Linked DNA regions of Homo sapiens. The protein of the gene in region 2 interacts with the protein of the main gene of each other region in a pairwise test. Each region holds a gene or a part of one and is shown on either strand. Other genes may lie near its edges.

The links.
Region 1: the proteins of KASH5 (region 2) and C14orf180 interact in binary tests that used the Homo sapiens proteins (3 or more experiments, as listed by UniProt).

The regions. Positions count from the first base shown.
Region 1 is NC_000014.9:104,582,650-104,586,401, forward strand, and holds part of C14orf180 (nutritionally-regulated adipose and cardiac enriched protein homolog), read left to right. Parts: intron 1-3,752.
Region 2 is NC_000019.10:49,391,249-49,395,000, forward strand, and holds part of KASH5 (protein KASH5), read left to right. Parts: intron 1-2,097; exon of another isoform or gene 2,098-2,151; coding exon of another isoform or gene 2,152-2,152; exon of another isoform or gene 2,153-2,171; intron 2,172-2,228; exon of another isoform or gene 2,229-2,584; coding exon of another isoform or gene 2,585-2,609; intron 2,610-3,227; coding exon 3,228-3,332; intron 3,333-3,752. UniProt on the Homo sapiens protein: As a component of the LINC (LInker of Nucleoskeleton and Cytoskeleton) complex, involved in the connection between the nuclear lamina and the cytoskeleton.

The sequences.
Region 1 (3,752 bases), on a different chromosome or scaffold from region 2:
AGCTCGGTGCCCCCTCTCAGTAGAGGAGCTGGTAAGAACCCCCCAGCCCCCCAGCACCAAGGGAGGCGCCATGGGGTTCCTGTTCCCAGAGTGGGGGTAGAGTCCCCTCGGGTGGACGCGCCCTCCCCAGCAGCGGGCCTAGCGGGACACTTACAGGTCCAGGCTCTGAAGCTATTTTCCGCCCTTTATCTCCCATCTGTCACGAGGCCTCCAGTTACACACTGTCCCTGCCAGAGGCCCCAGGCCTCCCCGCCCCCACCTGCCGAGCATGCCAGAGCCACTCCTTCCCTGCTTCCACTGGGGAAAATGAGGCCCAGGGAGGTCACACCACTTACCCGAGGTCACAGAGCCAAAGAAGGACAGAGCCCAGGACTTGAGCCAGACCTCTCTTCCAGAAGGGGAAGCGTGAAGCCCAGTTAGGGAGGGGATGGCAGGGCTCAGGGAGGCTGTCTGGGAGCAGAGCATGGCCCACGTGAAGGTGCATCTCTGGAGAGGGGACCGCGGAGCTCAGGGAGGCTGCCTGGGAGCAGAGCGTGGCCCACGTGAAGGTGCATCTCTGGAGAGGGGACCTCAGGGCTCAGGGAGGCTGCCTGGGAGCAGAGCGTGGCCCAGGGGAAGGTGCATCTCTGGAGAGGGCCCCAGGGCTCCCGGAGGGGAGGTGTCATCCCATAGGATGTCCTGACTGTCCAGACACAGCCAGAGCCACCTGAGCTCTGTTCCTGGGCACATTCCCTCCCCGAGTGATGCCAACAGTGGCTGATGGCACAGAGCACAGGCTTGGTGCGGACTCGGGTCTGTGCACTGACTCCCACCCTCACGCGAGCCCGCAGAGGCTGCTGCTCTCCTCACCCCCATTTCACAGCTGAGCAGACCAACGCCCAGGCAGATTAGGAGACTTGCCTAAGGTCACACGTGGTCACACAAGGTGCTCTGGAGCCCACACCTGAAGAGGGGGAGGTGCTGTCCCGTAGGAAGTCCTGACTGTCCACATTCCGGCAGAACTCTGTGCCCCAGAAGGCGAAGTCGCGTCCTCCCCAAGTTATGCTGCTCAGCAACAGATGGTTAATGCCACAGCCAGGCACCCTCACAAACACACTGCCTACGCCTGCACATTCACATACACTCTACACAAACACACACACATTCACCCACACATACGCAGATACACTCACACACACACACGGGCACATGCATGGACACACACACACATGCATATTCACATGCACGCACAGAAATACAAGTACACATATGCACACATAGCCACACCTCCATGCACACATTCACACACACAGACACCCCACACGTGCACACTCATGCCCTCTGACACACGTGCCCACTCTCACACTTGCACACTCAGGGGAATACTCACACATGTGTGCACTCACACACGTGCACACACACACTGTTTTCCCACCATCCCTTGGACAGACCCCAGGCCAAGGAGGGGTGAATAGCGAGAGCTGCTGGCAGGAGCTGGGGGAGACTGCGTCCAGCCCTGCATCCCTGCGTGACTCCGTCGGCCCAAGCCTCTCCAGGCCTGTTTCCCCATGAGGAGTGAACCTGGCTGGGCCCCCTGGAATGCTGCTGCAGGGTCGCCTGGCAAGGGGCTGTGGCCCTGGGCACGCCAGCCAGCCCCAGGCCGTGCAGCCCCAGGAAATGACCCCGAATGCACAAGCCTCCTTCCGCCGGGCAGTGGGAGAGCCCGGGCTCTGGGTCCAAGAGGTCACTGGGGGGCTCTGCTCCACCCCCAACCCCACCCTGGGCTTTAGCAGAGTTTCTATCCCACCCAGGGTGGAAACTGAGTCAATGGCATCCAGAGAGCCCTTCCAGCCCCAGCCCTGCTACGGACAGGCAGTCAAGGTTGCCCTGCCAGGCAGCATCCCCAAAACACCAGGACAGGCCTGGCACTCTGTGGCTTCCCTAACCCTGGGGATCACGCAGAGCCCACATTCCAGGTGACCTGGCCCCAGGAGACGGGGCCCCAGCTCAGCTGGGCCTGCAAGCACAACCTCTCCCACAGCCACTCTCTGAGAGCAGGTCCTGAAGATAAGCCGCCCCTCCCCGCCACCCCCCTGGATGGCCGGCTCCTGCCACAACCCTATTTGCAATAAAAACCTGATCCGGCGATAGCAGAAAATTGCTCTCTTTTGAAATAATTGAACCCGTCCAGACAGTGTCCTCCCAGACATCATTAACAGGGCACTCTGCTTGTCTGCAGTATTTATGCCCACTTGGGGAGGTGGTCATGGCCACCCTGTTATCTCCTGTAGAGGACGGCACACGGCTGCTGGAGTCACTGCAGTATCCACCCAAACCACTCCTCCCACAGGCCTGCCCTGAACCTCTGAGGCACCCATCCCTTTGGGGGACCCTGGAGGAGTTATCCTTGAGGACCATGTAGGCCCCTCACTCTCACCCTCCCCCTTCTCAGCCCTTGGGGGCAGGGTCCTTGGAGGACCACGGGGAGCCAGGGAAGCATCTCAGGAAATGCAAACACCTGCCCTGTGAGGGGCAGGGGCGGCAGTACCCTCCAAGGACCCCAGGGCAGGGGAGAACCTGAAGGGCAGCAGGAGGTCCCCACACTGCCCCCTATCCAGCTGGGAGCAGGGCAGGGAGGACCTGGCCTGGCATCAGCTCCCAGGGAAGCCCCAGCCCCCTCTGGCCTCAGTTTCCCGACCTGAAGCAAGAGAGGCAGGCTCATCACCCCCAGAGCCCTTGAAAGGCAGACACCTGCACCTGCACAGATGCCTGGTAGGCACTGCACCCCTCTGTAGGGAGGAGTGCCCAAAAGTCAAGAACCCTGCCAAGGCTGTGAGAGAAAATTCACACTTGGGGGGCTCCACCGGTGAGCACGAATGAGGAGAGCACAGCCTCTGCCGCCAAAGACACGGGGGTGGAGGCGAGGAGGCGCCATTCACAGCCAGGAAGCAACCAGCGCAACAGAGGAGGGGACAGAGAGACAGAGATAGAGGTAGAGAGATAGAGAGAGAATCAGAGAGAGGAAGGGGGACAGAGACAGAAACAGGGAGATAGAGACAGAATTAGAGAGAGGCAGGGAGACAGAGATGGAGACAGAGAGAGAGACATAGAAAGATAGAGACAGAATCAGAGAGAGGCAGGGGGACAGAGAGATGGAGACAGAGAGATAGAGACACAGAATCGGCGGGGGCGCGGTGCAGAGAGAGACACAGAGAGAGAGTGTGAGCCGTGCTGAGGGGTGGGCCCCCAGGAGCCCAGGGGCGCCCCACCAGCACCAGCCCAAAAAGGTGGGCATGACCCTCTGGGAAGCCTTTCTGTGGACCCGGTCTCAGAGCCCTGACAATTCCCAGTCCCCAGCCCCAGGGCTTCCCGCTACCGAAAGGAGACAAAGCAAAGATGTTTCTTGCAGCCTTATCCATGACCTCCAAACATTGCAAATGACAATACTAAAATGCAACCCTCATGAATACCCAATCATCGAGGGTGACTTTCAGTGACGGGACCTCGGCCCAGTGGAATATTATGCAGCCATTAAAGATGATAATTATGAAGACCGTGGCAGCAAAGGAAATTGCTTGCGATGGCATTTCTGAACGAGCAGGGAACAGGATTTACCTGCACTGGGGACACCACAGAGGAAAAGTGGTGTCTGCTCAACAGCGTGGCCGGTCGCAAGCCCGGGAAGCCAGCCTGGCTTCCAGGAAAGAATTTTCTCCTCCTCTTATTTTCATTCCTCTGAGTGCCACTTGTGCAGTAAATAATAAATAACGTCT
Region 2 (3,752 bases):
CCCCTGCCCCGCTTCATTTCTCTTCACAGTGCTCACATCTGTATGTCATGTTTTGTCTCTGTCTCCCCTGCTAGAGCATGAGCTCCACAAGGCAGCGTCTGTTTTATTCACTCTGGTATTCCCAGTCCCTAGAGCAGCGCTGTCCTGTGGAAGTATAATATGAGCCACATAGGTAATTTATTATTTTTTAAAAGAAAAAAGGAACAGGTGAAATGAATGTTGATAATGGATTTTCCTTATATAGCCAGACTAATACCCTGTATATTATATATGTATACAGGATATACATACATAGAGATATATATATGTATATAGCCAATATATAGCCAATATAAAAAATGTATCCAGATAATCTGTTTTTTTCATACTAAGCCCTAAAGATCTAGCGTGTACTTTACACTAACAGAGCATTTCAGTCTACACTCGCCTCAGTTCAGGTGCTCCAGAAGGAGAGACTGCCCTGTTGGCTGGGACCCCAGAGCAACTCCTGACTCACTGTGGGAGCTCACTTACTGTTGAGTGAACGGACGGATGTAGGTTGAACGGGTGTGAAAGCTGGCTTCAGAGGGTGGGGAGGAGGCACTGGGGTTGCCTCTCTGAAACTCATCTGCCAAGTGAGAGAGCCCAGTCTGATGGGGATGGTAGGGCCCCTTTCTTAGAGGCTCCCAGGCATCCACGGCACAGCCTGCGTCTTTTTCTACAAAGCCCCAGACCTCAGGAGGCTTTCCAGATAGGAGGGTCAGAGGTAGACACCAGGGTGTGGGAACCAGAGGACAGGCTGTCTAGTGACAGCCATCTAAACTTCACCTGCACCAGCAGAGGGCGTGCAGCCACCAGGATCCGGGTGGCAAGGGCTGAGACAGCTTCGAGAGGCTCTGGAAGGAAAGGTAGGAACACACCCAGAAGGAGAGATGGAGACAGAGGAAGGCAAAGGGAAAAAGAAACAGCAGAGGAAGGAAAGAGAAGACTTAGGGAATGGAGAGTCTCTGAGATATGGGAAGGGAAGCACAGAGACTGAGATACAGGGAAGAAAACGGGGACAAGCGACATGGAGGCAGAGAGACAGGACGTGGGGAAGAGAGACTGGGAGAAAGATAGAGAGAAAGAGCCAAAGAGAAATGTAACGAAGAGGCAAGGACAGAGACATAGAGGAGATAGAGACACTGAGGAAGGAGATCTTCCTGAGGAACAGAAATGACATCTCCCTGGGGGAATCCTGGGATGCGACTTCAGACACATGCTGATCCTCAGAGCCAGCACGACCTGATGCCAGTCCTGAGTTCTATTCCCAGCTTAGCTCTCTCTGGCAAGCAGCCCTGGGTGAACCATCTCATTGGGCCTCAGGGTCCTCGTTCATGTAACATGAGAAAGACACTGAGAGGGCTGGGTATGGTGGCTCACACCTGTAATCCCAGCACTTTGCGAGGCCAAGGTGGGCGGATCACTTGAGGTCAGGAGTTCGAGACCAGCCTTGCCAACAGGGTGAAACCCCATCTCTACTAAAAATACAAAAATTAGCTGGGCCTGGTAGCAGGCACCTGTAATCCCAGCTACTCGGGAGGCTGACGCAGGAGAATTGCTTGAACCTTGGAGGCAGAAGTTGCAGTGAGCGGAGATCACGCTACTGCACTCCAGCCTGGGTGACACAGCGAGACTCCATCTCAAAAAAAAAAAAAACAGTGAGAGGAGGAAAACAGACTGGGGCTAAAGCCCTGGTCTCCCCCTAACTGTGAGTCCACACGCCCCTTCCCAAGGGCCAAACCTAGGAGCATAGGTTCAAGACAGAGGGGGTGCAAATTTCACTCACTGCAGAGAATCCTGGAAGAGTTAGAGGGATGAGAAAGTTGACTCATATGTTAAACAGGGTGACCTTTGGCGAGTTCTTAGTTTCTCTATGCCTTAGTCCCCTCATTTGTAAAGTAGGGATTATAATAGCATCGATTATTATTATGCTAGTAGACAGTTCATGTAAAGTGCTCAGAAAAGGCCTGGCACCTACTAAATGCTCAATAAGTGTTCAATTCTATTCTTGAGTCCCCACCACGTGCCAGGCCTTCTGCCAAAGCCTTTCTAGATTGTATCTCATTTTCTCTCTAGGAAAGAGGTAACACCAACCCCATTTTCCAGAGGAAGAAACTGAGGCCCAAGAGAAGTTGAGTCCATTGCCCCAGGTGCCACCACTTGTCTGAGGCCAAGCCTCGGTTGCCCCCTGGATCTACCCCGTCCTGCAGCCTGTGCTCAGTGAGCTGCTGCACCCAGCTGTTCAAGGCCAGGGCAGGGAGCCTAGAAGTTCACTTCCAGCCCTGGGAGAGAGGCTGGGCCAGCCCAGTGGCTCCTGCAGTTGAGGATCTCTTCCTATGTCATGGAGCATTTGTTGAGCACCTGCCATCTGCAGGTGTTGTGGCTACAACAGTAGACAAATAGACCCCAGGACGTGTGTGTGTGTGTGTGTGTGTGTGTGTGTGTGTGTGTACATGCGTGTGCTTCACATACACAGAGCTAACTCAGCCCTGGTGAGGAGGATCACTCTACCCACCCCCCCAGTAGGGAAACCGAGGCTCTAACAGAAGAGACTTGCCCACAGATGTGCAGCTGGACTCTGCACCCAGGTCTGACACACTGATCCAGCTCATAACCATTCCCTCACTGCCCACCCTGTCTGGTTTACCCTATCCCTTCATGTCTCAGCCCCTGGCCATGGGCTCCAATGATGCCACCCTTGCCTTAGGGATGCAGGGAGGAGAGAGACCTGGTCCCCAGGGTGGGCTGGGAGACCGGAGATGCAGCAGGCGGGATCGATCTGGGCTGCCCATGCATTATTGGATTGTTCCTGGCTCCTGGGCCCCCCCTTCACTCTCAGCTCCTCCCAGAATCCTCTCTTCTTTGCCCTCCCCGACCCTGTCCCTCTCTGAGTCCAGCCTGGGAGGCTGGAGAGGAGAGGAGGAAAGGGTGATCTCAGAGCGTTCTTCTCTGGGCTCCTAAGCCAATTGGACACAAAAAGACAGCAGGGGGGACTTCCTGGTTTGAAAGATGGGGGGAAGTAACTCAGAGACCCTCACATTGTTGCCCCCTCCTGAAGCTTCCTGCTGTTCCCCACCCGCCCGAACTCTCAGTGCTCTGAGTGAATTCCCTCCCCGCTACAGAGCCCAGGAGGCTGAGGACCTGGGGTCACCCCTCTTCCTTCCTTATTCTTCCCACTGGTGAGCTGAGCCCTCTTGTCTCCCCAGTGTACCTCCGGGAGCGGCCTGAGGAGGCAAGGCTGGGAATGCCGGTCAGCTTGGAGGAGCAAATACTCAACTCCACGTTCGAAGCTTGTGACCCTCAGAGGACAGGTGGTGGGGGCATGAGGGGTGCTGGGGACCAGTGCGGGCAGGATGGGGTGGAGGCTGGGAACTGGGGAGCCTCAGAGAGAAGACTGGGCTAAGGCCCCCTCTTGGGGGTATTGTAAGAACAAAGTGGGTGATTATGGGAAGCTTCAGGAAGAAGAACGTGGATAATGGGGTGAAGGCCTTTTAGAATGAGGAAAACTTGGGGGACGTTGATGGAAGAGGGCAGAGTTTTGGGGTCGTGGGATAGGGGAGGGAGGCAGCCACCATGGTGGCGTGGGGCATGGCTGATGCTGTCCCTATGTCCATCCCCTTTGGTTTACCCTGTGATGGGGGGATGACTGGGCCCCATTTCCAGGTGAAAAAGTGGACTCAGAGGAGGGGAAAGGGCTTGCCCAGTGTGTCTCCACTGGGCCATGGAGCAGG